Linked DNA regions of Homo sapiens. The protein of the gene in region 1 purifies or fractionates together with the protein of each later gene. This does not show direct contact. Each region holds a gene or a part of one and is shown on either strand. Other genes may lie near its edges.

What was found.
Region 2: the proteins of SLC16A6 (region 1) and ANO10 purify together in Homo sapiens (affinity purification with mass spectrometry; one large-scale study listed by BioGRID and IntAct). This does not show direct contact.
Region 3: the proteins of SLC16A6 (region 1) and ATP2C1 purify together in Homo sapiens (affinity purification with mass spectrometry; one large-scale study listed by BioGRID and IntAct). This does not show direct contact.
Region 4: the proteins of SLC16A6 (region 1) and RFT1 purify together in Homo sapiens (affinity purification with mass spectrometry; one large-scale study listed by BioGRID and IntAct). This does not show direct contact.
Region 5: the proteins of SLC16A6 (region 1) and CYP20A1 purify together in Homo sapiens (affinity purification with mass spectrometry; one large-scale study listed by BioGRID and IntAct). This does not show direct contact.
Region 6: the proteins of SLC16A6 (region 1) and CEP78 purify together in Homo sapiens (affinity purification with mass spectrometry; one large-scale study listed by BioGRID and IntAct). This does not show direct contact.
Region 7: the proteins of SLC16A6 (region 1) and TM9SF3 purify together in Homo sapiens (affinity purification with mass spectrometry; one large-scale study listed by BioGRID and IntAct). This does not show direct contact.

The regions. Positions count from the first base shown.
Region 1 is NC_000017.11:68,277,469-68,281,528, forward strand, and holds part of SLC16A6 (monocarboxylate transporter 7), read right to left. Parts: intron 3,645-4,060; exon of another isoform or gene 3,533-3,644; intron 3,459-3,532; exon of another isoform or gene 3,439-3,458; intron 860-3,438; coding exon of another isoform or gene 853-859; coding exon 621-852; intron 1-620. UniProt on the Homo sapiens protein: Monocarboxylate transporter selective for taurine. May associate with BSG/CD147 or EMB/GP70 ancillary proteins to mediate facilitative efflux or influx of taurine across the plasma membrane. The transport is pH- and sodium-independent.
Region 2 is NC_000003.12:43,618,863-43,623,546, reverse strand, and holds the start of ANO10 (anoctamin-10), read left to right. Parts: upstream 1-1,535; 5' UTR 1,536-1,638; exon of another isoform or gene 1,639-1,774; intron 1,775-4,684. UniProt on the Homo sapiens protein: Does not exhibit calcium-activated chloride channel (CaCC) activity. Can inhibit the activity of ANO1.
Region 3 is NC_000003.12:130,900,274-130,904,333, reverse strand, and holds part of ATP2C1 (calcium-transporting ATPase type 2C member 1), read right to left. Parts: intron 1-4,060. UniProt on the Homo sapiens protein: ATP-driven pump that supplies the Golgi apparatus with Ca(2+) and Mn(2+) ions, both essential cofactors for processing and trafficking of newly synthesized proteins in the secretory pathway.
Region 4 is NC_000003.12:53,099,281-53,103,340, reverse strand, and holds part of RFT1 (man(5)GlcNAc(2)-PP-dolichol translocation protein RFT1), read left to right. Parts: intron 1-74; coding exon of another isoform or gene 75-127; exon of another isoform or gene 128-146; intron 147-3,854; coding exon 3,855-3,960; intron 3,961-4,060.
Region 5 is NC_000002.12:203,245,339-203,249,398, reverse strand, and holds part of CYP20A1 (cytochrome P450 20A1), read right to left. Parts: intron 3,554-4,060; coding exon 3,504-3,553; intron 2,645-3,503; coding exon 2,478-2,644; intron 1-2,477.
Region 6 is NC_000009.12:78,259,629-78,263,688, reverse strand, and holds part of CEP78 (centrosomal protein of 78 kDa), read right to left. Parts: intron 783-4,060; coding exon 705-782; intron 1-704. UniProt on the Homo sapiens protein: Centriole wall protein that localizes to mature centrioles and regulates centriole and cilia biogenesis. Involved in centrosome duplication: required for efficient PLK4 centrosomal localization and PLK4-induced overduplication of centrioles.
Region 7 is NC_000010.11:96,552,139-96,556,198, forward strand, and holds part of TM9SF3 (transmembrane 9 superfamily member 3 precursor), read right to left. Parts: intron 922-4,060; coding exon 790-921; intron 1-789.

The DNA.
Region 1 (4,060 bases):
GCCCAGGCTGGAGTGCAGTGGTGTGATCTCAGCTCACTGCAACCTCCGCCTCCTGGGTTCAAGCAATTCTCGTGCCTCAGCCTCCCAAGTACTGAGGATTACAAGTGCAAAACACTGTGCCTGGCTAATTTTTCTATTTTCAGTAGAGATGGGGTTTCGCCATGTTGGCCAGCCTGGTCTTGAACTCCTGACCTCAACTGATCCACCCACCTTGACCTCTCAAAGTGCTTACAGGTGTGAGCCACTGTGCCCGGCCATCAGCAACTTTTTGATGTTGCTTCTTAGACAGTGACTATATCCTCACATCCTCACAAAAGGAGGTTGACTGCACTCCTTAAGGGAATCTACAGAATCCTAAGAGTGTGCAGACAGCAGATGTTTAATACATGTGTGTTAAACTGAAGGCTGTCATGGCTGGCAAATAAGGCTTTTTTTCTTCAGTGCCTTTTGTTTCTTGCCAATCCTCAATGCTCTGAAAACCCTGTTAGTCAGGGCTAGGAAGGACCAACAGGCGTATAAGGGAATGAAAGCATCACAAACACATCGACTACCATTACCAAGGTAGCCAAATTAAAAGGGCCCTATACTTACGTCATGGTTAGGCCGAAAGATGTACTAACCTGAAAATGTTAAGACAAACACACAGATTGAGATTATCCATGAGATCCTGCTATTGGATTCATTAAAACTGTCCATTAAGTCATTAAAGAAGACACCAAATGTCTTGATGATGCCGTAGGTGAAGACTTCAACGAAGAAAAATGAAACAGCTACCGCCCAGCCCCATCCTCCATCAGGCACTTCAGTATACACATTGGCTTTGGAACAAAGCTTTAATTTATTTTGGGTCATTCTTAATCTGAAAGAAAAAGTTAAAAGCAATTCAGATCAGCAATAGCATGAGGATCGATGATTCTCATACTCTTAAGCAAACAACAGATAAGAACTACTTACCCCATTTCTTAAGTTGTTGAATATTTATTTATTTATTTATTTATTGAGATGGAGTCTTGCTCTGTCATCCAGGCTAGAGTGCAGTGGCATGATCTCAGCTCACTGCAACCTCTGCAATTCTCCTACGTCAGCCTCCCAAGTAGCTGGGACTACAGGCATGTGCCACCACAGCCAGCTAATGTTTTTTCTTTTTCCTTTTTTTTTTTTTTTTTTTTGAGACAGAGTCTCACTCTGTTGCCCAGGCTGCAGTGTAGTTGTGTGATCTTGGCTCACTGAAATCTCGGCCTCCCGGGTTCAAGTGATTCTCCTGCCTCAGCCTCCCGAGTAGCTGGGATTACAGATGCCCACCATCACACCCGGCTAATTTTTGTATTTTTAGTAGAGATGGGGTTTTGCCATGTTGGCCAGGCTGGGCTCAAACTCCTGACCTCAAGGGATCCACCCGCCTTGACCTCCCAAAATGCTGGGATTATAGGCATGAGCCACCACACCCAGCTGATTGTTGAATATTTAAATCATGTACAAGCAGTATAAAGTATTTGGATACTTTTATGCATATATATGTATATACAAATCTTGGTATTGTACATGGGGCCTCCCAAAAAGAAAGTTAAATGGGAAAAACAGACATGAAGAACCAGAGCAGAATATTTAGAAGCATATTGAAGGACACCAAATGGCCACCAGACCAAGTATTAATGCTGACCTTGAAGGACTCAACTTAGGCAAAAAAAGACTGAATTGACCATAAGGAATGTTGATCAGAAATGAAGCCTAGAAAACGGAGGCTGAAAAGCAAACATTGGCGGTGCATCCAGCACCTTCCACCGAGTAAGTGTTTGAGATACCATAAGCGTCTCTGCTTGATGTCCCTGGCCACCGCGATCACCTAGTCAACTCTTCTTCCCCGCCATTTTCTACTCAGTAAGCAATATTCTGATTATGATTTGGTGTTCCATGTGGATGTACCTACACAGACACAATGTCACTATAAATCAAAATGAGGGCATTCTGTCTTCTGGGAGTTTGTTAAGCAGGAGTAATTTCCTCAAAGTTGACCACCACTTAGTATATTAGCAATTGAATTTCCAAGTACATGATGATACTCTAGAATATGGTGTCTAAATAAGGTACTATTATACAAGCCTGTAGGGCCCCATCTGGACACCAGTTAACTGAGTTACCCCTAACCTCACTGTGCCTCTCCATTCAAACTGCAATAAACATCAGAACAAGCCAACCTGTCTTAACACTTCTAAGGAGACATTGACATTGACATTGGTTTAACTTAAGTCTTCTGGATTGGGCTCTAGCACATGAATACTGTCTTTTTCAAAGCCTCTGTAATTACATATACTTTGAAACAGTCATGTGTATTTTTAGCCTAACTAAAAATTAATGATATCTATAATAATCAATGAGTCCATGGTCTTCAAGCTCTTAATGGCAACCAACTTCAAGTTTAAGAATTCTTTATGGCTGGGCGCGGTGGCTCACACCTGTAATCCCAGCACTTTGGGAGGCCAAAGCGGGTGGATCACCTGAGGTCAGGAGTTCGAGACCAGCCTGGCCAACATGGCAAAACCCCGTCTCTACTAAAACTACAAAAATTAGCTGGGCATGGTGGCAGGCACCTGTAATCCCAGCTACTCAGGAAGCTGAGGCAGGAGAATTGCTTGAACCTGGGAGGAGGAGGTTGCAGTGAGCTGAGACTGCACCACTGCACTCCAGCCTGGGCAATAGAGCAACTCTGTCTCAAAAAAAAAAAAAAAAAAAAAGAATTATTTATATATGACCCAAAGCAATCTACAGAGTGGATTCCTATCAAAATACCAATGACATTCTTCACAGAAATAGAAGAAAAAAATCCTAAAATTTGTATGGAACCACAAAAGATCATGAATAGCCAAAGCCATCCTGAAAAAAAGAACAAAGCTGGAGGCATCACACTAACAGACCTCAAAATATATGACAACACAACAGTAATCAAAACAGCATGGTACTGGCATAAAAACAGACACACTGACCAATGGAACAGAAGAGAGAACCCTGAAATTAATCCACATGTCTACACCCAACTGATTTTTGGCAAAGGTGCCAAAGACATTCATTGGAGAAAGTTCAGTCTCTTCAATAAATGGCACTTTGAAAACTGGATATCAATACAAACAATGAAACTAAATCCCCACCTTTCACCCTATACAACAATCAACTAAAAATGGATCAAAGACTTAAATGTAAGACCTAAAACTATAAAACTACTAGAAGAAAACATAGGGGAAACACTTTAGGACATTTGTCTGAGGAAAGATTTTTATGGATAAGACTGGAAGAGCACACACAACAAAAGCAGAAATAAACATGGGATTATATTAAGCTAAACAGATTCTGCGCAGCAAAGGAAACATATCAACAGAGTGAGGCCAGATGTAGTGTGTCACGCTATAATCCCAGCACTTCGGGATGCCAAGGTGGGTGGATTACCTGAGCTAAGGCGTTTGAGACCAGCCTGGGCAACATGGTGAGATGCCATCCTTACTGAAAATACGAAAAATTAACTGGGCCTGGTGGCACACACCTGTAGTCCCAGCTGCTTGGGAGGCTGAGGGACGAGGATTGCTTGAATCCAGGAGGTGGAGGTTGCAGTGAGCTGAGATCATGCCACTTCACTCTAGCCTGGGTGACAGAAGGAGACTCTGCCTCCAAAAAAAAAAAAAAAGAATGAAAAGACAACCCACAGAAGGGTAGACAATATTTGCAAACTATTCATCTGACAGGGGATTAATAGCCAGAATATACAAGGAACTCAAACATCTTAACAGCAAAAAAACTCCCCAACAATCTGGCTTAAAAATGGGTGAACAGGCTGGTGGCGGTGGCTCACGCCTGTAATCCCAGCACTTTGGGAGCCTGAGGCAGGTGGATCATGAGGTCAAGAGATCGAGACCATCCTGGCCAACATAGTGAAATCCCGTCTCTACTAAAAATACAAAAATTAGCTGGGCGTGGTGGCATGCACCTCTACACCTGTAGTCCCAGCTACTCGCGAGGCTGAGGCAGGAGACTCACTTGAACCTGGGAGGTGGAGGTTGCAGTGAGCCGAGAT
Region 2 (4,684 bases), on another chromosome or scaffold:
AAATTTTTCATTTCAGAATTATTGCTTGTCTGCTATGGACCTAACACTGTTCTAAACATTGGGGCTGGTAATCCTCCATTATCTGTGGGAGATACATTCCAAGATCCACAGTGGATGCTTGAAACTGAGGATAGTATAAAACTCTATGTATACTATGTTTTTTCCTACACATACATACATACTATGATAAAGTTTCATTTATAAATTAGGTACAGTAAGGGATTAACAACAATGAATAATAATAAAATAGAACAATTATAAAAATAGACTGTAATAAAAGGTGAATATGGTCTCTCTCTCTCTCTCCAAATATCTTATTGTTCTGGCCTCACCTATTTTCAGACTGTGGTAGACCCTGGGTAACTAAAAACACTTAAAGCCGGCAGGGCGCGGTGGCTCACGCCTGTAATCCCAGCACTTTGGGAAACCGAGGCAGGCGGATCACCTGAGGTCAGGAGTTCTAGACCAGCCTGGCCAACATAGTGAAACCCTGTCTCTACAAAAAATACAAAAATTAGCTGGGCATGATGGTGCGCGCCTGTAATCCCAGCTACTCAGGAGGCTGAGGCAGGAGAATCGCTTGAACCCGGGAGGCGGAGGTTGCAGTGAGCCGAGACTGCGCCACTGCACTCCAGCCTGGGTGACATTGCGAGGCTCTATCTCAAAACAACAACAACAAAAAGTCAAAAAGTGTGGTGGACAGAAGAAATAGGAGAGCAGGTAAGGAAATGGTGGGGTGAGGAGCAGATGAGAACAGGTATTAAGTAGGATGGTCAGAAAGGGCCTCAGGGAGAAAGTGAGAGCCCAGCAAACACTGAGGGAGGTGAGGAAGTGAGCCAAGCAGCCAACCGAGGGAAGAGCTTTCTGGGCAGAAGGAATGGCTGGGGCAGACTCTGAGCCTGGAGGTGGAAAGGTGTCTGGCGATTTCTAGGAGGAGCAAGGGTTTTGGGATTTGGCTGTGGTTGGATGTTAGGTTTTAATTATAAAAGGATCTGCGTTTTTCACAACTTGAAAGTGAGCTACAGTTAAAATGAGACTTGTTCTTATACCTGAAAGTGACCAGAAAATTAGGTTCTGGTCTTTAAGAGATGGAAGAGGGAAATGTGAAGGGGCGTATTCCTTTCCCCTGCCCCGACCGCTCGCGGTTGGAGAGCCCAGCCACATGCCGCCCCGGCTCGGAGTGACAGCCCAACCAGGCCTCTGCCTTCTCGGCCGCGCCTCTCCCGCTGCCGTCCGGATTTCGATGGGTGGTACAGTACGTTAGGCACGCCCCTCCCTTTCTCCCGGCCTGGTCTCCTGTTCCAGGCGACAGCCCAATGAGGGCTGCCTTTTTTTCTTCGGACCGGTTCCAGTCTAGGTTCTCGTCCACTACGATCGCCCAGTGAGGCCCCGCCCCTCCCACCGCAGTTCCGCCCCTCCCGGAGCTACCGCCCAGTGAGGCCCCGCCTCTCCCGCCGCGGCCCCGCCCCCCTGCGTGTGACCGCATCTAGGCCCCGCCGCGTCCGCCACGCCCAGCGCTCGGCGGCGCCCGCCCCACTGGCCTGGCCCGCCCCCCGCACCGAGCACTCTTTCGCCCGGCCTCCGGTTCTCGCCGGCTCTCGGACCCGCCTCCGAAGACGTGGAGCGCTGCGGCGGCTGGTGAGTCGGGGAGGGCACCTCGGACCCCCCAGCTGTCCGCAGCAGAGCCCGGCCCCTTGCAGCCACAGAGCCCCGGCCGCTGCAGGCTCCAGGAGCTCCGCCTGGTCGCCGCCCTGCGTTCCCGGGCCGCCTCCCGGTGCCAGCACCCCTGGGGATGGGAAGTGGGACCAGGATGGGCGCGGGGGCTGTGGGGGCAGGGACGAGTGAAGGTGTTGCGGGGAGCGGCGGTCGCAGGGGAGGGGAGAGGTTTGTGGAGGGGATTATGGGTCTGGGGCGAGGGTTTGAGTCCTGAGAGAAAGGCGGTGAGGCGGAAATTTGGGGCTGGTGAAGTCAGGATGGAGGATGTTGGGGGCCTCAGCGCTTTGGGGAAGGAGGCAGTGAGTGGGGTGGTCGGCGGAGCGGAGTGAAGGGTGGTTTTTAGAAGGGTCAGCTCGCGGGTCCCGGGGTTCTTGCTTCCCGGGCAGTCCGGGGATCAGGGCGGACTAGGCTGTCTCCAAGCAGGTTTGGCCGGAGCGGGCTTGCAGGATAATGCTCACATCGAGGTGACTGAGTTTCCAGGCTTTTGACTGGGACATACTGTACAGTTTAAATAATAGATACCTGTCTGGCTAGTGCCTGGGACACCTGAGAAACGTGGATGGAATGGGGTTCTCCCCTATAGGCAGCGTCTGATTTTGTGGGTGCCTTCACAGCACCAGCATTGGTGTGCGCTGCCTTCTGTAAAACCTTATATTCCAGCAGGACGGTGTATGGAGATCCCAGACTTAAAAAGTGCAGCTGAGGTTTATTCAGACTCAAGACACAGTTGTATCATATTGCCTTAAATCCTGCGGAGTTTAAATCTAATCCTGTGGGGTTTAAAGCGGTTAAATCCACTTTGTAGTGTCTACTTTTAATTTAAAGTCATACAAATCTAGAGGACTAGATGTTTTCTAAGGGCCCATTCTGCATGATAAACAGTTTAAAATTCGCTATGGAAAGTAAATCATCTGTTCTGAACAGCTGTTGCTGAAAGAATCGTAGAGTTGCAGATGAATGAAATTTGAAAGATCTAAAATAATGGAAGGGCATAGAAAAGTCTTGATAAATTGAAGTGTGTAAATGCACTTAAACCCACTGAAACTTTTTTCTTTTTGTTTTTTTTGAGACGGAGTCTTGCTCTGTCGCTCAGGCTGGAGTGCAGTGGCACAATGTCTGCTCACTGCAACCTCCGCCTCTCGGGTTCAAGCGATTCTCCCGAGTAGCTGGGATTATAGGCGCCTGCCACCATGCCCGGCTAATTTTTGTGTTTTTAGTAGAGATGGGGTTCCACCATGTTGGCCAGGCTGGTCTTGAACTCCTGACCTCAGGTAATCCTCCCACCTCGGCCTCCCAAAGTGCTGGGATTACAGACGTGAGCCACTGTGCTGGCCAACTTTTTTCATTGTAGACAACTTGGAAGACAGAGAAAATTATAAGGATGAAAATTAAAATCTGTAGTTTTGCCACATGTAATAACATTTTGATGCATTTCTTCCTAATTTTTGTATTTTTGTGTATATGAATGTACACAAAATTAGGGTAGTATTGTTACCTAATTGGGGTAATATTGTTATATTACTTCATACTTTTGCTTTTTCTTTCCACCTTACATTTTCTCACTTAGCATTTTTGTGGATCAAATTCTTCTTAAACATCTTTGAAAATGCTTGTATAATCATTCATCATGTGGATTCATTCTTTTTTTAAATATTAGAGTTTTAGTTATGTGCCTAGTACTGTGCTTGGAGGTGAAAAATCAGTGTTCCTCAAATGGATATATTTGTCATGGCTTGCATGAGAGCTGTACTAAGCCTTTTTCTCATCTGTCAGTTAAATTGTCTCTAGCCTTCTGTTTTTATAAGCAGTAAACCTTTGTTTTAATGGTTAAAAGCTCACAATAAATCTCATGTCATGTGTGAATCCAAAACTGTTATTTTTAATGTGTATGAGTTTTTGTGTGTATGTGTTAGGAAATTACGGAATTTTGGGTGGAAGAGGATTTTTTTTTTTTTTTTTTTTGGACAAGGTCTCACTCTGTTGCCCAAACTGCAGTGCGTGCAGTGGTGCAGTCACAGCTCACTGCAGCCTTGACCTCTGGGGTCAGGTGATCCTCCCATCTCAGCCTCCTGGGTAGCTGGGACTACAGGCGAGAGCTTCACCGTATCCAGCTAATTTTTTTTTTCTTTTTTTTTGTATTTATTGTAGAGACAGGGTTTCGCCATGTTGCCCAGGCTGGTCTTGAACTCCTGAGCTCAATAGATCCACCCCCCATGGACTCCCAAAGTGCTGGGATTACAAGCCTCAGCTACTGTGCCCAGCCCCTGGAAGAGGCTCTTTTTAAAAAGTTTCTTGTTTTGAAATAATTTTAGATTTACAAAAAGTTGCAAAAATAGTACAAATTTCCTTATGCCCTTCACCTAGCTTCCCCAGATGTGAACATCTTAGATGACGATGGTGCAATTGTTGAAACCAGAAAATTGACATTGATACAATTCTATTAGTGTAATCTACAGACCTTATTCAAATTTCACTAATTGTCCCACTAATATTTAGGATCCAGTCTGAGATCCTACACTGTATTTAGTCGTCATATGTCCTTAGCCTCTTTTAACCTGAGCATCCTCCTAAACAGGATGACCTGGTGCAGACCTGTAAAGTGAAGCAGGCCTGCTAGAAAGCACACACCTCCCCTGAATTCATATCCAAAACCTATCCCTTAGAAGGGGATATTTATCTTCCTTTTCTATATGAATAGACTACTGTTTGATTAAGATGTATAACCATAGCTGGGCACGGTGGCTCACGCCTGTAATCCCAGCACTTTGGGAGGCCGAGGCAGGCGGATCACGAGGTCAGGAGATCAAGACCATCTTGGCTAACACGGTGAAACCCCGTCTCCACTAAAAATACAAAAAAAAATTAGCCGAGCATGGTGGCGGATGCCTGTAGTTCCAGCTACTCGGGAGGCTGAGGCAGGAGAATGGCGTGAACCCGGGAGGCGGAGCTTGCAGTGAGCAGAGATTGC
Region 3 (4,060 bases), on another chromosome or scaffold:
AACAGATGGGAGGAGACTAACATGATGATAACTAAATGCAAGGTAGGATCCCAAATTGGATCCTGAACTAGAAAAAGGATAGTTTATAAATGTGAATGTCCTGGTTTTAATAATTATACTATGGTTATATAAGATGTTAACATTAGGAGTAACTGGGCAAAAGATATCCAGGACCTCTTTGTACTATTTTTATACCTTTTATGTAAGTCTAAAGTTATTTCAAATTTTAAAAATCAACATAATTTTAGAAGATTTTAGAAAAACCTCTCAAAGTAAAGTAAATCTTTCTACCATAATTGAATTTGCATCCAACAGTTAACTACATCTGAATTATACTGCCACTCTGGGAAGAATTTGGCATTTTTTGATCATTAAATTAAAAAGTGGGCATAATACTCCATCTACTGATACATCTGTTTGTATAAATTATTCTAGGTTTGAAAGAAATTTGGTACAAGGATGGAGGAAAGGGGTATCATACCATCTACATATTTTTTAAACCCGTCCATTTTGTTGCCATCCTATATTAAGCATGCAACCAGTGTTTTTTAAAGCCTTCAGTGAGCAACAATTATTTTACTAGCAATACAGAAGATGGAAAGGAAAGGAAAGGAAAGGAAAGGAAAGGAAAGGGGAAAGGGGAAATGGGAAAGGGGAAAGAGGAAAAAGGAAAGGAAAGGGGGGAGGAAGGGGCAGAAGGAAAGAAGGGAGGGAGGGAGAGAAAGAAAGAAAGTTTTTTTAGATTCCTTTATACCTTCTCCTAATACCTCCCCCACCATGACCAATGACATTCATTTCATAAAGCAGCTAACTGGTGAACCTAATTTTACAGGCTATGACAAACCAAACCCTTATGAAAAGACATTATGGTGGCATTCTTAACACCCTGTGCTTCCAGACCTAAATAACTACAGGTACAATGGGGAGCCACGTAAGCCTTTAAAAGCAGTTGACAGTCAAATACAATTTAATATCATTTAAAGCTACCAACTTTGAATCCTATAGGGTTAAGTTAACCGATAATTTATTTGCTGTCACAAAATGTACTCTGTTATTATTTTCCATGTTTAAGTGGTGTTCCTCAAAAGCTAATTTTTCTAACCAACTAATTAATGAATGGAATATTTAAATAATCTTAGTTTAAGATGAAAAACAGGCAGGTTATTTCTAAATTCCACCTGCAATTAATAAAACGTACATTAGTAAGTCCAATACATAGTTTACCGAACTCAAGGACTTTTACCTACAGTAATTCCATTCTATAGATGGAGAAAATAATGTATAGTAAGAGTAAACCGGTTTTTTTCCTAAAAGGAAAGAAATAGCAGCAAAGAATTCCAGTGACTCCCTAAAAATGAGAATGCCACACAACTATGTACATGTAAGGAGACTTTAAACACTGAGGCTATGACTGGAATAGATCACTAAGGGATTGGTATTAGAGATGAAAATATCGGTGGTCCTGTCCCTAACACCACTGAAACATTCAACACCTTACAAAATAAAGGGAATATTCAACACCTTACAAAATAAAGTAAAAAGACACCCGACAAGCAAAAGAAAGCCACCTAATGAAGACCCTAAAAAGGAAATCTAAGGAAGAGTTCTGACTTCGGGGGGGGTCTAGTTAGAATAAATGGATAAAAAGGAAAAAGGCAATAGACATAGGAGGTCTAGCATTTTCCATGAGAAATAAAATTCAGTACATTTTGGTCTTGATTTCAAAGAATAGTAAAATTGCTTCCAAACAATAACAGTTCTGTGAGCAATAAATAATACATAAAATGTATTTACAGGCTAAAAAGTAAAATTTAAGGGCTTAACTTCATTGATCTACACTAAGGGTTTAACTTCATTGTCTACTGCTAGGTGAACACTAAATACTGAATCCTGAAATAGTACAAACCCAAACCAAAGTATAATCAAAATCATAATTTGATAAAACCATGAGAAAAGCATTAAGATTATAAAAGCTACTCTATGTTTCCTAGGCATCCCACTCACCTCTCAGAAAAAAAAAAAAAAAAAAAAAAAAACAAAAAAAAAAAACGTGAAGCCTTGAAATTAGCAGTTAAAAGACCAAAAGTAACTCCCCTAAATCTATTCATCAAGTAAGGTAAGGGAAATTAGGATTTGCTGAGAGGCTCTTTCATGCCAGGCACTTGTACACACCCTGCCTGGTCTAATTCTAACAAACCTGAAGTAGTCATAATCTCTTTACAAGTGAGGAAACCAAGGCTTAGAGGAGTCAACTTCCTTGCCGTTTGTTAGAACAGTGTTTCTCAATCTTGGCACCATTGACATCTGGGGCTAAAAAATTTTGAGGGTGGCGGGGGGAGGTAGAAGATGCTGTCTTACGGATTGTAGCATGCTTACCAGCATCCCTGGTCTCTACACACTGGATGCCAGTAGCATACTTTGAGTTGTGACAACCCAGCATTTCTCTAAACATTGCCAAATGTCCCCCGGGGGCAAAACAATCCTGAGATGAGAACCACTTAGAAGGAAGAAGCCAGCATTTTCATTCAATTGACAGTAGGTACGTCCCAGAGTCTGTTCAAGATGAATAAAGGACAAATTGAGGTCTCTGCCTTCAAGAGCTCACTTTGAATCCTGGTGCTTGATTTAACACCTCTCTCCATGCATAGCTATATGAGCCTCACATCATGACAGTCTGACCTATATATTCCCTTCAGCCAGCCCCTAAATCGGCTCACTCCTTCAACCACAATCAATGGCACCTTCACTGACCCAAATGACATCTTGCAGTCATGTCTGATTCAACTATTCCCTTAATTCTCTGTATCTAGTCACTGTCCAAGTCCTGCTGATTTTTCCTAGGAGTAAAATATCTCTGTCATCCATCCCTACCCTTCATTCCCATTACTCTAATATAGATACAAACCACACTCCCTTTATCTTCTAACAGATGAAATCAGGAGTAACTAATCTCTCTTGGCCCCTCATATGAATTAGGGGTACATATCAAGATATAATAACTGATCTACCAACTTTTAGGATAGAGGGCTGGCAGACTTCAGAGCAGTCCCCAATGACCACATCTTTCTCTGGGGTGGGGAGGGATGCTGGAATTTCTCATCTGATACTAGTTTCATAAGCCAAATATTAACTCTTAAGTAAACAGTAACCCTCACAAGCATTAAGAAAAGGACACAGCAGAAATTAGTTTGCATACCACTACAAAGTGGTTTGCATGCTATTTCTGGCATTTGTGCCATGAACTGCTTTTGCCTGCTTCAAAAGAAGGTAGAACTGACACTCAACAGAGCAAGTAAGGTACAACTCCCAAGCTTAATTAAGCCAACTAATATTTCCACCCCTGATGATGTAGAAACCTAGATGAAGGCAGGTAAAGCAAACATGCTGCTAGGGAAACACTAAAAATAGATGGCCAAACAAAATCTAGTGAAATGCCTGCATACAAAGAGAGATATAAATCTCATATATAACATATACAAATAAAATCACAGCATCAAAAGGCTAATTTATTTATACTACAAATGAAAAAGGCTCCGATTTAAGATGAGAGGAAATCCAGGACCTGGTTCAAAGTTGGATCTTGCCCTTAGGCAGAGAATAACAGAACGTTTATGTACTAATGTACTAATGCTCTATTCTTTTTAACTTCAGGACACCATAACCAAGATAAATTTCTGAAATTCACAACTTAACCAAAACTTTTAATTTTTACTTTGCGTGTTTAAATTTTCAAAAAAACACATTTACATATTCAAAAAAAAAGTCTGATGAGTGACATCCTAAATATTTCCACTTATTATTTCTGAGTTTTCCTATAAAAGGCTGATGGCAAATATATTTATTATTTAGGGTCCTGCTTTTTCCAACTTTATCAAGCTGTTTTAAGTAAGTAAATAAATAAATGAAAGTAATTTCTATAAGGATGCATCAATATCTCAAAGCTTTCTAAAAGAATAAAGAATGTCATACTAAAGCTGGGCACGGTGGCTCATGCCTATAATTCCAACAATTTGGGAGGCCAAGGCAATAAGACTGCTTGAGTCCAGGAGTTCAAGACCAG
Region 4 (4,060 bases), on another chromosome or scaffold:
TGCTGGGCTGTAAGCTGGCAGTCCATTTGCAGTGCTTCATCTTGGGTTTAGCAAAGATGTTTTTAATTTCTCAGGTCGCTGGACAAGAACGCTGAGGACTTCTTTCTGCTGCCCCATCTCAATATAAAGGGCTTTGTCAAATGCCATTTTACAAGTTCACTAGCATGTTTTAGTCTCCACTACAATGGGGCCCAAACTTTTGGTGTTAGGGGAGGAAGGGCCAGGTTTCTATACCAGAGCAAAGGTCATTAAGTTTGGAGAAACACCTGCTGTGAAACCAGTGAAGTGGTTTGCAGCTCCCTGGGGCTTGTGCTGTGAGAAGTGTATTTCCATCTGGCAGCTGTGGGGAGGCCTCATGAGGAAGGCATTAGTAAGTTTATGGGCAGAGATTGGGAACTCGACTATTCTGTAGCAGCTCTTCCCCTTTAGAAAGCAATCACCAAGGAGCAGCCTCTAATGTCACACAATCACAGGGCGTTGCCTCAAGGAGGGGGCTGTCCCATCATTATCATGACTCAGCCCATCATCTTAGTTTTGAAAGTGGAACTCGCAACACTGCTGTCCCCAGTTGTGTACTTGTCTTTGTCTTCACCCTGGAAGTGGACTACTTACCTGTGAGCTGTACTGGCCATCTCCAGATGTGGGACTCGGACACAGCACGGACAGGCTTTTGTGTAGGGGTGTGGCTTCTCTTCCGTTGTTTGGGATTAGCCCTGCATTTAATTAGGGTCTTTGTAAGTGTTCTAGAGGCTTTTCTTAGAAATCCTTCTCACACCTAGCTTTGCTTTGCTTTTTCTTTTCTTTTCTTTTTTCTTGGTAACTCACAGAACAACACCTAGCTTTTCTATCCTTAAGCAAAACCCACACATTCACAGAATTTCCCCAAGATTTCTTACATTTCTCTCTTAGGTGCTTCTCTCTTGTCCCTCTGCCTTTTACTTTTTTCCTTCTCTATCCCCTTGTCTTAATGAACTAGGGCTGCCATGACAAAGTACCACAGACTGCGTGGCTTTAAACAACAGAACATATTGTCCGTCAGTTCTGGAGGCCAGAAGTGCACAATGAAGCTATGGCCAGGGCCGTGTTCTCTCTGAAGGCTCGAGGAGAGGCCCCTTCCTACCTCTTCTAGTTGCTAATGGTTGCTGGCATCCTGGCGTTCCTTGACTTGCAGCTGCAGTACTGCGGTCACATGGCTGTGTTCTCTCTGTCTTCACGTCATCATCCCCCTTGCGCTCTTCACGTCATCATCTCCCTGCACGTGTCTGCCTCAATGCAAGTTTCCCCCACTTTTTTTTTTTTTTAGTGAGATGAAGTCTCACTCTATCACCCAGGCTGGAGTACAGTGGTGTGATCTCGGCTCACTGCAGCCTCCACCTCCCGGGTTCAAGAGACTCCCGCCTCAGCCTCCCGAGTAGCTGAGATTACAGGCACACCCTACCACACCCGACTAAGTTTTTGTATATTTAGTAGAGACGGGGTTTCGCCATGTTGGCCAGGCTGGTCTCAAACTCCTGACCTCAGATGATCTGCCCCCCTTCAGCCTCCCAAAGTGCTGAGATTACAAGCATGAGCCACTGCACCTGACCAAGTTTCCCCTTTTTATAAGGACACCTGTCATATAGGATCAGGGCCTGCCCTAATGACCTCATTTTAACTCAGTTTTCTTCATGAACACCCTGTTTCCAAATAAGGACAGATTCTCAGGTACCACTGGTCAGGACATTAACATATCTATTTTGGGGGGACAGTTCAACTTAAAACACCCCTCAATTCAGTCTACAATCGAAGGTTGGTTCCATTCTTGAATTCCCCAAATGGACACAAAACCCTTTACGTGAGTCACTGATTGGTGCCAGAGTTTGTGTTCTCCATGCCTCACGACAGCCCACTGTTCACCTACTGATGGGCCCTCCTGTGCCATTAGCGTTCAGTTACCACGTAAGGAGGCCCCCCACTCTTCTCTGCTTCTGCCAGGGAGAGGAGGTTGGGGAGAAGCAGGAGGCACACTTGAGCATAGCCTTGAGCCTCCCGGGTGCAGAGCCTGGTCCCCGCCTCCCTTCCTGGAGTCACCGTCAGCTGGGGTGGGGGCCAGGCTACTTCCTGCAGCGGCTTGACAAGCAAAATGCAATGTGAGGTGATAAACATGGAATCTGAGACAGGGCCGTGGAAAACGGTTTTTTGTTGAGCGTCGGGGCTGCCCTGTTAGTATTCCTTTTATAATTTTGTGACTGCCATAAAACTGTTTAGGGGTCCCACAGCATGGAGATCTTTTGTATTAAACAGCTTTCATAAACCCTGAATGAGTTCCAGATTCTGAGACTCCGGAACTTCAGTCCCCCTCCTTTTCTTTCAGTGGTTATGTGTTTTTTTTGGGAGTTTTTTTTCTCCCTTTGTTGAGGTATAATTTACATAAAGTAAAATGCTGTTCTCTTAAGAGTACAGTTTGGTAAGTTTTGACAAATATGTACAAAAAATCCCATGTAACTACCAAACAGATTCAGACATAGAATATCTCCATTTCCCCAGAAAGTTCTTTTGGGACCCTTTCTAGTCAACTACCCCACTCCACCTCAGAGACAAAGAGAAATCAGAAGAAATCTGATTTCTATCACCATGGATCAGTATTTCTTTTAAAAGTAATTTTATATCAATGAAATGCAGCATGTGCGCTCTTGCATTTGGCATATTTCCTTCAATATAAAGTTTTTGAGATTCTTCCATGGTTTCGCATGGATCAGTGATTTTTATTATCTTTTCTTGCTAAGTATTCCTTTGTGTGGATGGCCCACGTTTTGTTTATTCTTTCTTCTGTTGATGGTCAGTTTTGGCTATTATGAATCAAACTGCTACAGATGCTTTTGTGTAAGTGTTTTTGTGAACATGTGTGTTCATTTCTGTTGGATATATACCTAGGGGTGCAATTGCTGGGTCGTAGGTTAGGTGTTTGTTTATTTTATTAGGTGCTTGATTATGGCCCTCTTAAAAGGGGGGAATCAATCCCATTTGTAAGCCTCCTGTTCTCTGCTTAGAAGATTTTTCCGAAGCTTGTTAGCTATAGAACTGCATTACTTTGTTTTAGAAGAAAATACTATTATGGGCACTGGTTCTCACTTTGGATTTGTGTAATTTTCTGCTGGTCCTGGGCCCCTGGCTTTTGTTAAAGGTCTTTTCTTCAGGACCTGCTCAACTGAGATTCCCTTAACATGCAGGGTCACTACTGACTTTGAGTCCAAACCAGCAGGCCTATTCATGCTGATGAAAAAAGGGAACAGACTTGCTTGCTAGCCAGATAAGCTTTTAGTTGTCCAGCAAGAGATCTGTACATTTATTCATAATTGTTCTTTTTTGTGTGTGTGATAAGGTCTTGTTCTGTCACCCAGGCTGGAGTGCAGTGGCACTATCATGGCTCACTGCAGCTCTGACCTCCCCAGACTCAGGTGATCCTCCCACCTCAACCTCCCGAGTAGCTGGGACTACAGGCATGCCCACCACACACAGCTAACTTTTGTATTTTTGGTAGACACGGGGTTTCATCATGTTGCCCAGGCTGGTCTCTAACCTCTGGGCTCTAGCAGTCTGCTGGCCTTGGGCCTCCCAAAGTGCTAGGATTACAGGTGTGAGCCACCGTGCCCAGCCTGTCATTTTGTTTTTTGCTGATTATTTAGTCAATGCCATAGAATGTTGGGAATCCTTCTAGATTATTAAGACCCTGGGCTCTAGCATGCAGTCTGCCCATTGCTGATACCAGCAGACCTCATAGTCTGGTTCTGGTTCTCTGGGTACTCAGCAGCACTGAGGGTACATGTGGGCCTTCTGATTGGGCTCTGGAGTCTCAGTGAGTTGTTTCCTTGTAGGTCCTGTTTTGCTGCGTTCCTACTGTCTCTATGTTCTCCTGCTTGCCATCAATGGAGTGACAGAGTGTTTCACATTTGCTGCCATGAGCAAAGAGGAGGTCGACAGGTGGGTAACCTAGCAGGTACACCTTTAATCATGGCCTTCAGCCAAAATGAAATAACTTGTCAAGCTTTTTGCTTTTCGTTCTGAACATGCATTTACAGAT
Region 5 (4,060 bases), on another chromosome or scaffold:
CCATCTCTCTTTCTTCCTTTCTCAAGGTGATTTTGACTTTGTTTTTAATTTAGAGACAGTCTCAATGTGTCTCCCAGACTGGTCTTCAACTCTTGGGTTCAAGCGATCTTCGCACCTCGGCTTCCTGAGTAGCTGGGACTACAGCTATGTGCTACCGCATCCATTCAAGATGTTTGTTATTGTACTAAAATTTTTCATTTTTATGTAGACAGATTTATCTAACTTGTGTTTTATAGCTTCTAGATCTTGTACCATTGTAAGAGGTTTATCTACATTCTCTCCAACCAAAGAGAAAAAATTTAATATTTAACCATGTTTTCTTGTATTACCTTTATGACCTGATATTTTAATCATCTAGAATTTATTTTTATATAAGAAATAAGGCAGAGGCCAGGTGAAGTGGCTCACACCTATAATCCCAGCATTTTGGAGGGCAGAGGTGGGAGAATCGCTTGAGTCTAGGAGTTGGAGGCCAGCCTGGGCAACGTAGCAAGACCTCATCTCCACTAAAAAGTAAATAAATTAGCCAGGCATGGTGGTGCATGCCTATAGTCTCACCTACTCAGGAGGCTGAGGTGGGAGGATTGCTTGAGCCCAGGAGTTGTAGGTTATACAGAGAGCTATGATAGCACTGCTGCACTCTAGCCTGGGCAAAAGCTGGGCGGGGCGGGGGGAATAGAATAAGGCAGGGATTGAGATTTATTTTTTACAAATAGCTAACCAATATTCCCCAAAACATTTATTACTTTTCCCTTTTGTCATAAAATGCTATCTTTATCATACATATTTGGTTTGTCTTCTGAACTCTCTACTCTTTTACATCTGTTTGCCTAGCTTGACCACAGTATGAGAGTCTTTTTTTTTTGAGATGGAGTCTCCCTCTGTCACCCAGGCTGGAGCGCAGTGGTATGATCTCAGCTCACTGCAACCTCTGCCTCCCGGGTTCAAGAGATTATCCTGCCTCAGTCTCCCAAGTAGCTGGGATTACAGGCGCACATCACCAGGCCTGGCTAATTTTTGTATTTTTAGTAGCGACAGGGTTTTACCATGTTGGCCAGGCTGGTCTCGAAATCCTGACCTCATGTGATCTGCCTGCCTTGGCCTCCCAAAGTGCTGGGACACCAGGCAGGAGCCATCACGCCCGGCCAGGAGATTCTTTTTTTTCAAGAGACAGGTTCTTGCCCTGTCCCCTGGCTGCCTGGCTGGAGTAGAGTGGCGCAACCTTGGCTCACTGAAGCCTCAACCTCCCGAACTCAAGCAATCCTCCCACCTCAGCCTCCCAAGTAGCTAGGTCTACAGGCACATGTATCACATCTGGCTAATTTTTGTATTTTTTGTAGCAATGGGGTCTCACTATGTTGCCCAGACTGGTCTTGAACTCCTGGGCTCAAGTGATCCTCCCACCTTGGCCTCCTAAAATGTTGGGATTACAGGTGTGAGCCACTATGCCTGGCCAATACAAGATTCTTTAATCTAGCTTTATAATACTCTATACTAACTGATGGTACAAGTATTTCCCTCATTAATATTCTGTGTTTTTTGGAGATGGAATCTTACTCTGTTGCCCAGGCTGGAGTGCAGTGGTGCGATCTCAGCTCACTGCAACCTCTGCCTCCCAGGTTCAAGCAATTCTCTTGCCTCAGCCTCCCGAGTAGCTGGGACTACAGGCACACCTCACCACGCTCAGCTAATTTTTGTATTTTTAGTAAAGACAGGGTTTCACCATGTTGGCTAGGATGGTCTCGATCTCCTGACCTCATGATCCACCTGCTTCGGCCTCCCAAAGTGCTGAGATTACAGGTGTGAGCCACCATGCCCAGCCCATTAATACTCTTTTTAGGATTGTTTCCTGGTTGCTCATGTACATTTACTCTTTACTCTTCCAGATATACCTTGGAACTATTTTTTCAGGGTCCCAAAAAAATCCTGTTGGAATTTACACTGAGATTTTATCATATATGCTTATAAATTAAGGAAAAACACAATTATTTAAAATACTATCTTAAATTAGGCAATAAGACATCAGCACAGTGCCTAGCACATAGTACAAAGCATTCAATAAATGTTGGCTATTCCTATCCAAGAACAATATATATATACAGTTTTTATTTATAAACATTAATTCTTTTTTTATTTTTTTGAGACAGTCTCGCTCTGTCGCCCAGGCTGGAGTACAGTGGCACAATCTTGGCTCACTGCAGCCTCCGCCCCCGGGGTTCAAGAGATTCTCATGCCTCAGCTTCCCAAGTAGCTGGGATTACAGGTGTGTGCCACCACACCCGACTAGTGTTTGTATTTTTAGTAGAGAAGGGGTTTCACCATGTTGGCCAGGCTGGTCTCGAACTCCTGGCCTCATGTGATCCACCTGCCTCAGCCTCCCAAAGTGTTGGGATTACAGGTGTGAGCCACCGTGCCCAGCCTAAACATTCATTCTTAAAAGGTAAGGATCAGGTAATTAGAAAGAAAATTAAACTTACATGTCTTATTGGGATTGATATGCTGCTTCAGTACATCAACAGTGCCCAAACTAACCACGAGGCGCCTGCCAAACCAGAAGGAGACCACAGGCCCATATCTCTCATGCAAATTAACCAGGAACTCATGCAAACTTCCACTATTCACAATATCTGGAAGATTACCATCTCTGGCAAAAGAGCAACATTTGACAAAATAATCAATTTAATTTGGAAAAATGAGAAAAACAACAGTTGACTCTGAATTAACTGTATCAATAAATGAGAACAAAGGTTCATGAAATTCAAATTACTGCAAAATCCAAAACTCAATTATATTTGCCTTCTTGCTATATTTCTATAGTTATATTTAGATATGGATTTGTCTGATATTTTAAGAATTCTTAACACTTCAAACCAAATAAGAAAGCTCCATAGGAACATCCGACTTAGATACTGGAAAGCTATCCCACTTTCCCAGCACCTAATTCTGAGATGACAATGGACATCATCGGCTGGTGAAAATCATCAGATCAGCTATGGCAATCTTTTCCTTCTTTCCTTCTATCTTAATCCTCTTTTCAGCTTTCTCTGGCAAGGGGAAGTGAAAGCAATGAAATGTTTTGATTTACACGACCCTCCTTTCTGTTAACAAAGTTTAGGTTACATGCCAAGGTAAATTTAGGGCAATCAAAGGAATTGAATTGAATAAGATGAGTGATCTAAAAATATGGTTTATCATTTTGGTTTGTCTTCTGAACTACCTACTCTATTCCATCTGTCTGCCTAGTCCTACCACAAAATAACCTTAGTTTTCTTTTTACTTATTTATTTTTTTTAGAAACAGGGTCTGGCTCTGTCGCCTAGGCTGGAGTGCAGTGGCACAATCATAGCTCACTGAAGCATTAAACTCCTGGCCTCAAGCGATCTTCCACCTCAACCTCCTCAGTAGCTGGCAACAGCTACCATGATTGGCTAAAAATATGGTTTAGTCTTGATATCAATAATGAAGAATTAACTCTACTTAATTCCAAGAAAATAATTACTCACTTTTCTTCAGTTGGAGTAATCCCTGGAATTCCTGCAGCTTGTCTGGAAGCCTTACAAAAAAAAAGTTTATAATAATGAATTATCATATATCCCATAAGTCAGATGTGTTTCACCAACACATCTGCAGGACCTTAAATAATAGCTTTCCAATTAAGCTGAATCTAAGAAATTATTTCCATATTAAAATACAAAAAAAGGGGTTCTTTGCATGGAAAAGAATGATTTCCATGTCCTTTGCAGGGATACAGATGGAGCTGGAGGCCATTTTCTTTAGCAAACTAACACAGGTACAGAAAATCAAATACTACATGTTCTCACTTATAAGTGGGGGCTAAATGAAGAGAACACATGGACACATAGAGGGGAACAATACATGCTGGGGCCTTTCGGAGGGTGAGAGGATCAGGAAAAACAACTAATGGGTACTAGGCTTAATAATTACCTGGGTGATGAAATAATCTGTACAACAAACCCCCTTGATACAAGTTTACCTATGTAACAAATCTGCACTTGTACCCCTGAACTTAAAATGAAAAAAAAAAAAAAAATTTTTTTTT
Region 6 (4,060 bases), on another chromosome or scaffold:
TATGTACTCTCCTGTACACCAAATCTATTTATCTAATACTACACATAAGTCTAACTCTAGTATTTCTCAGAAAGGCCACTGTGTTCACAAAGCACCTTTTGCCTTATACAATCAGGTGCTCAACCTTTATTGAATGATTAACTGTCTTTCAAACCAATGCATATACTTTCAAAAATTCCTCCTTAAACTTGCTTTGTAATAATAAATTATAGTTATGTAGAACTTTCTAGTTTATGCCCTGCTCTTATGCACATTCACCTAATTTAGTCCTCATGGTATAGATTTTTATCTTTCATTGCATTCTTACCGGTTTTCCATTATCTTTTACCTTATTTATTCATTTTCCTAATTCCCCTTCAGTAGATAGTCTCATCCCCATCTTTTACGCAATTGTATATACAGTATAAGCCTAATAAATGCATTCTTGAATTGATGCATCATGAACAGAAAATAAGCTCCAGTCATATAAAAACAGAGGAAAAGAAAACAAACTACAATTTTTACATTTTTAAAAAACATGCTTTTTGGAATACAGATCACACGGTCACCAAATATAAGTAAATACAAACATTAACATACTGTGACCATTTGCAATACACTATATTTTCTCATTTTAAAGTTTATAAAGTGTGTGTATGTATGACTTAAAGTTAAACCAAAACCAAAACAAAAAACTCTCAAAAGGTAAGAAAACTTTTATTTACCTCACTGACTCGTTTATCAACCTTAAGCCTTATCACTCTTTCTTCCTTTAACTGCTTTAGGCACTCCTCCAGTTTTTCCTAGTATTAAGTAATAAAGTAAATATTATAATTAATTCCCAATATGATCCCCAAAACTCTTCCAGCTGTTGAGCTCACCAAGTGTTTAGGGACAGAGCCAGAAGTGAACTCAGATATCAGGATTATAGCCTACTGCTTGTATAATATCATACCATGCTAGGGAAATTAATTACCAAAAACATCAGATTCGCACATTACAGATTTATTTCCACTCTTTCCAAAATAAATTTATGACAGCTCACCATAGAAGGCATACACATATATTTATTGAGTCAAATAAAAATTAAGGCTATGAAAAAGAAATTCTATTCTTATTTGTGGATCCCTTATAATAGGAAGCCCTATTAACACACTTAACACACCTGAATTATGTAACAGCAAATTAAAAGTCAAGTAACCAATTAAAAGGGACAGGGCTCTTTCTGGTAAAGATTGAAATACAAAAGGAATTAGACATGATGGAGATTCTCCAATTCCTCCAGAGTGTTGAGGGAAGGAACTCTACCATACACTTACATTAGAAAAGGAAATTGGTGCCACTTTCTGGAGTAATCTTTAGTAAATACTACCAATTCAATGTCTGGGAATTTACCTTAAGGAAATCACCAAACATGTGGACAAAGATTTATCTACCAACATAATGTCACAGGACTGTTTACAACTAAAAGCCTCCAAATTGTGATTGGTAAAAAAAAAAAAAAAAATAGCACATCCCTATGATGAAATGCTCTATGGAGCCACTAAAAACAATGATATGGGTCTTAACCAGAGTTAATGAATGGTCGTTTTTCTTGGGAGATGGTCCATAAGCTAAGTAAGATTCTCTGATGTGGAAGAGCATTCAATGATGTGACAAAATATTTTGATATCTTTTTAAGATAAAAGGGCAAATTACAAAATATCCAGGTGTGTGTACCATGCAGAGGTGGTTTTTATTTCCCTCAATGTTTTTCACGATTTTCAAAAATTTTCTCAAAGGGCATATATTTTTATACTCAGAACACATTTGAAAAATCAGTAAATGCCCTAATAACTACAAATTCTTTAATGTTTCATTATCAGTTAAAGCCAACCAAGTTTTTATGGGAAAAAGGAAAAAGAAATTGCAAAATTCCTCTACTTATTATTTATATAATGGTTTTAATATTTAGAACTGTTATCAAAGAACTTCTAACCAAACATGGAAATAAGCAAAAAACTTATCACAATTGGAGAAAGAAGAATAAAATCCTCCATTCCTAACTAGTTCTAAAAATCACATCAAAGCACAATTACATGAAATTGTTTCTCCCTCTAGTGGAGGAAGTGAGAACATAATGTTACATATTTATGAAAGTTCCCTCCTCATTACTCCTTTAAAGAGTAATTCATGCTCCTTAAAGAAAATAAGGAAATATGAAATGAAACAATTAGAAAGTAAAATCACTTAACATTCCACTACTTAAAAACGACTAATGATAAAGTGTTGTAGTAATTTTCCTCCCTGACAGCTGCTCCCCTTTCTCCCTTCTACCCATGGAAAAGTTTATATTTTTTCTGGAACACAACCCCAGAAATATCAAATGTTATCCTGTACAACAACCCTTGAATATCAAGGGCTTGAAGTATGCAGGCCCATTATATGCAGATTTTTTTCAACCAAATGCAGATCAAAAATACAGTATTCTGGCTGAGCACGGTGGCTCATGCCTGTAATCCCAGCACTTTGGGAGGCCGAGGCAGGCAGATCACAAGGTCAGGAAATTGAGGCCAACATGGTGAAACCCCGTCTCTACTAAAAATATAAAAATTAGCTGGGTGTGGTGGTGCGCACCTGTAATCCCAGCTACTCGGGAGGCGGAGGCAGGAGAATCACTTGAACCCGGGAGGCAGAGGTTGCAGTGAGCTGAGATTGCGCCACTGCACTCCAGCCTGGCAACAGAGCGAGACTCCATCTCAAAACAAACAAACAAACAAAAACAAGTATTCTCCAACGCAAAAGTTCATAAGGAGGACTGACTTTTTATATACCCTGGTTCCACAGGTCAACTGTGGGGCCTGAGCATGCCTGCATGGATTTGGGTATATGCTGGAGGATGGGGTCATGGAATAACCCGAGTATGCTGAGGGAAGACTGTATATCCAATTTTATGTTAGACATTCTTCCATTTAACACTGAATCAGAGAACTCATAACTCTGACTTTTTTTTTTTTTTTTTTTGAGATGGAGTCTCGCTCTGTCGCCTAGGCTGGAGTACAGTGGCCTGATCTCGGCTCACTGCAAGCTCCACCTCCCAGGTTCACACCATTCTCCTGCTTCAGCCTCCTGAGTAGCTGGGACTACAGGTGTCCGCCACCACGCACAGCTAATTTTTTGTATTTTTAGTAGAGACAGGGTTTCACCATGTTAGCCAGGATGGTCTCGATCTCCTGAACTCATGATCCACCTGCCTTGGCCTCCCAAAGTGCTGGGATTACAGGCGTGAGCCACCGCACCTGGCCAACTTTGACTTTTTTAGTGGGCTAAATAAAATATTCTACTGAGCCAGCTTACTGGTTCATGTAATCATTCCTTTATGGCTAACAAGACTGTTTCCAACTTTCAACATTATAAGATAAAATAACCACTTTTAAGCATGAAGGTTTTGTTCTCCCATATTTAGAATAATTTTCTTGCAATAAATAAAAAAGGAATTTTAGGTCAAAGCAAATAAACATTTTTAAGGCTCTGCAATACTTACATCCAAATTGCTTTCCAAAAGATTTCTAAGATTTTATACTGCTACTGGCAATGAAACAGTCTATCACTTGGATATATCACCTCTACTCTGTTGACTTACCTTCCCACTTAAAGTGCAAGATATTCAAGAGAAGGAAGTATATTTTATTAAGTGTTTATCCCCAGCATTTATGTGTACCACAAAGCAGACAACCAATAAATAATTGCTGAATAAAGAAAATCCCTGCCAATATAAGATTTATGTGTGTGTTAAAGACAGAATGTGTGTTTTTCTCTAATAGATAAAAGGTTACTGTCTTCCTTAAATGTGCACTGTCTTCCTTAAATGTGCATTTCTTTGCTTACTAATTAGTACTTAAATTTCTCTTTTAGGTTATTTTTTGGAAATTCAGATTCTCTGAGGCAAAGTTCTGGCCCTACCCATCAGCTGTATAACCTTGGGCAAGTTCAGTAACTCTAGGTCTTAATTTCCTCATCTATAAAATGGAGATAAATTCATGTATCATAGGGCTCTTGAAAGGAGTAAATTAACACACATATAAAACTGAGAAGAGTGCCT
Region 7 (4,060 bases), on another chromosome or scaffold:
ATTAAAATTTAAAATTTGAAACTATTTCCCAAGCCAGGCACGGTGGCTCACACCTATAATAACAGCACTTTGGGAGGCCAAGGCAGGAAGATCGTTTGAGGCCAGGAGCTCAAGACCAGCCTGGGCAGCATAGTGAAATTATCTCTACAATAAATAAAAAAATAGCCAGGGGTGGGGGCTTGTTCCTGTATTCCTAGCTACTCAGGAGGCTGAGGTGGCACGATCACTTGAGCTCTTGAGTTTGAAGTTACAGTGAGCTATGATCGCACCACTACACTCCAGCCTGTCTCTTAAAACAAATTTCCTAAATTTATTTAATGATACAGTATACCTATACCGAATATCCATTAGCTAGCACTCTATGTAACACACTTTTTGTTCTCTAACTTAGTAAAAGAACTTAGAAAACAAATCTTTCCTCTGAACCCACTAAACTGAACATAAATTAATCCTTCTACCCATTCCCTGAATTTTAAGCAGTATTTAACAGTATTAGACATATTCTTACTTGGTGGCAAAACTTGGCTTGAACTAACAAGAGGTTACACTATTTATTTATCCCACTTCGGGTGAATGTTCTTATGTTTTCCTGAAAAAAAATTAATATTATTTGATTACAGGGCATGGTTACAGACCACACTGGGCATTTTACATCTTTCTTAACTCTAAAAATCCTGAATTGTGGAAACTCAAAGACTTCCGGTAAGAAATTATGACCTACCTCCCAACATTTAAAACTTAACACTCAGTTAAAATGTTTCTACAAATATAATGTAAATGTTTACTCACCATATCATCCATTTCTTCCTCTTTACTGTACCGAGCATAATCTTTTCTTAATGTTCTCATTAAAATCATTGAAACTAAGCCCACCAAGAAGATCACCATCATGAAGGAGTTGAAAATTGAAAACCAATGAATCTAAAATAACAGAAAATAAAATGTTACCAACCTGCAATATCAGCCACAAAATTCATAGGTTCCATGAGGACAACCGGATGTTAATGCAAAGAAAAAAAAAAGTCTTTAATTAAATCCTTTAGACAAAAATCCAAATTTCAGACACTTTGAGGATGAGTATTCATTATGCCAAGGGGATTGGCTTTCTTTACAATAAGCACCCATATGTTGAAAACATGCTATCATTTATATAAATTTTCAAAATCAAATTTATTGTTAAAAACAAAAAGTACAATTTGGCCATATAACCTATGCTATTCAGCATTACATGGAAAAAACATGGGCTCTGGAGTCAAACATTGCCAGTTTCTGACTATGTGACCGCGGTTTTCTCATCTGGAAAATGGAGGAGCTAATACTTATCTTGTAAGTGATTTGTAGGGCTTAATAATGTATATATAAAGTATGGCACCTTAGATACTCAGTAAATGTTAGTTCCCTTCCCCCTAATTGAACAATCTGAAAACCTCCTTAAAATACTAAGACTAAACTATTATAGCTGGCTGCCATGGACTTAGGTCACCATCCTGAATGATTTGCTTCACTTGCTCCAGATTAGTTCATCCTCACCCTGTCACCATCATAATTCAGCCCTTTCCAAATCCATTTTCCATAGCATATTGAGGTATCCTTTAGTTCCTCAATGTTCTTGAAGCTCTTGGCTTTGATTTTATCCACATATTTGTTTCAATATTACATCTAGATTCTGATTCATAATCACAAGGTACTACTCAAAATGTAGCATATCTGATTTGAACTAGGTCTGTGGCACTGCCCAGTTATTTCTTTATTTACATTTTAATTCCCAAAAGATCTTTAGGGATAGTCCCCAAATTTCTCTCCTCTCTTCAAGGCCCCAATGCCATCCTTTCTGCTGCCTTCCCTTGAAGCAAATCCTGTCTTCTATGACACAACCTTTCCACATCCAGTTTTGAGGTGTTTTTTCTCCTCTCATTTTGCATCCCAACCCCTCCACCTTTCACCAGCCATCAGCAATCTCCAAAGGTCCTTATCTACAATGATGTCTACTCCCTGGGGTTGTCATAGAGTTTAAACAATAAAGGTAAAGCAAATAGTATAGTGCCTGGCACATCATAAACACTAAATAAAACCTAAAAGTTATTGTTATTGCTATTATTCTCTTTTGAAGTGTTTGCTTCATCTTTTGTCCCTCATTCTTTTCATCTTCTCACCTCCCGATCCTTTCAATGTCAATACTTTTCAAAGAAGACATGTTCCAGTTCTTCCCTCACTTCCTCCAAAACACAATACAATCTCACTTTTGCCCCACAAAATTTCTCTCAAAGGCCTGCAATGAACTTCTAAACCGATTCAGCAGCCAATTATCTGCCTCACTCTCCTTGATCTCTCTGCCACATCTGACCTTTCCTGACACTACAGCATCCTACTTCACTGACCGCTGCTTCTCCTCTTTCATCTTCCATGCTGGCTCCTCCCATCCTTTGTGAACTTCTCCAAAAGCTCCAGTCTTAGTACTCTGCTGTGACTTCTTTAGGCTCTCAGAACTTTTAACCAGCATTCCAATGATGATGATAACACCCTCGCCCCCACCTCCCATCCCACCCCAAATTGCTAGTCTTCTTTCTCACTCATGTTTCAGGCTTTTGCTAACTACAATAATTTCCACTTGAATGTTTCTGGAATTGCAGACTCAGACTGCCCTAAAGTACACTCATAATCTTCCACCTCATATATAACACTTGTTTCTGATTCTCTAACTTCTGCTAATGGTACTAACATGTGGCTTTGAAATTTTACAATTATCTCTGGCTCTTCCTTCTCCTTAATTCTTCATAGGTAATATTAAGCATGTATTTTTCTTCAAAATGACTTGTATCTATCCATTCTGCTTCATTCCCATGCCATCACCTCATACCTTGATAGCACTAATGGCCTCCTGGTTGGCCTTTTTTTTTTTTGGTCTCTCCCCTTCCTTTCAATTTATCCTGTAAAAAGCTATCAAGGAAATCTTTCCAAAGCAGGTTCATATATCACTCCTCTATTCTAAAATTTACAGTTGTACACCCTATTTCTCTCATATCAAATCTAAACTATTTTCTCCAATATTCTATACTTCCTGTAATATGGCCATCTCACCTTATCTAGTCAACTTTTCTTTCCATTATATTCTATATTCCAATAAGCCTTATCCCTCTTCAAGAATCCACAAGCACAGCATACTCACTTCCACCTCTGTATTTTTCTTATAATTTCTTCTCACATAGATCTACTTCTACTCCCCTTAGCAAATTCTACCCAGTCTTCATATTCCAACACAAGTACCTTCCCCTCCATGAAACCTCTTATCTACATATTCCGGTTCTTCATAGATATCCTCCTGCTCTAAAATTCTACAGGTACATACATATGCATTGCTGTGTATGATTAGGACATATGTTAACTTGGGCTAACGTGCTGAATATGTGCATGAAACTGAAGGGCAGTCCAGGCTCTGTTATCCACCCTGAGGTTTCAGGAACGAGATAAACTCTATGGATCTTCTTGAAAAACAGGAGACAGCCTCTTCAGAAGACTATTCCTTACTTCATTCAACAATTTATTTATTGAGCATCCAGTAAAATTATAAAGGAACCAAGAAATGCATTGTTTTTTGAAATGTTTGCTCAAAAAAGGTTATATAAATCTGAGTTTATTGTAAAAGTATCATTTAAGGTTCATAAAAGCAGTCTATGATTTTCCAAAGATTTGATTTTGTTCCCACCCTGAGATGTTAACCCAGAAAAGCTCAAGAGGGAAAGAAAAATGACACATACCATCTTTTAGTCAATTTATCAAATTTTTTAAAATAAAAGAAGTTTTATATAGTTACTAGTAACTATACTAATTAGACACACATAAAATGTTGTAATTTCTAACAAGGCTCTGCTATTTTCTAATCTAAGATATACACTATTATAATGTAGTAATAACCTGAAATTTTGTAATATTCCTTTATTCTAAAAATTATGAGATGTTGTATAATTGTGAAATTATTATACCAGGGAAAATACTTCTTAAAAATAAAGAAACCTGGTGTCACAAAGGGGTTTACTAACCCTACTAATGCTGCATGCCAGCA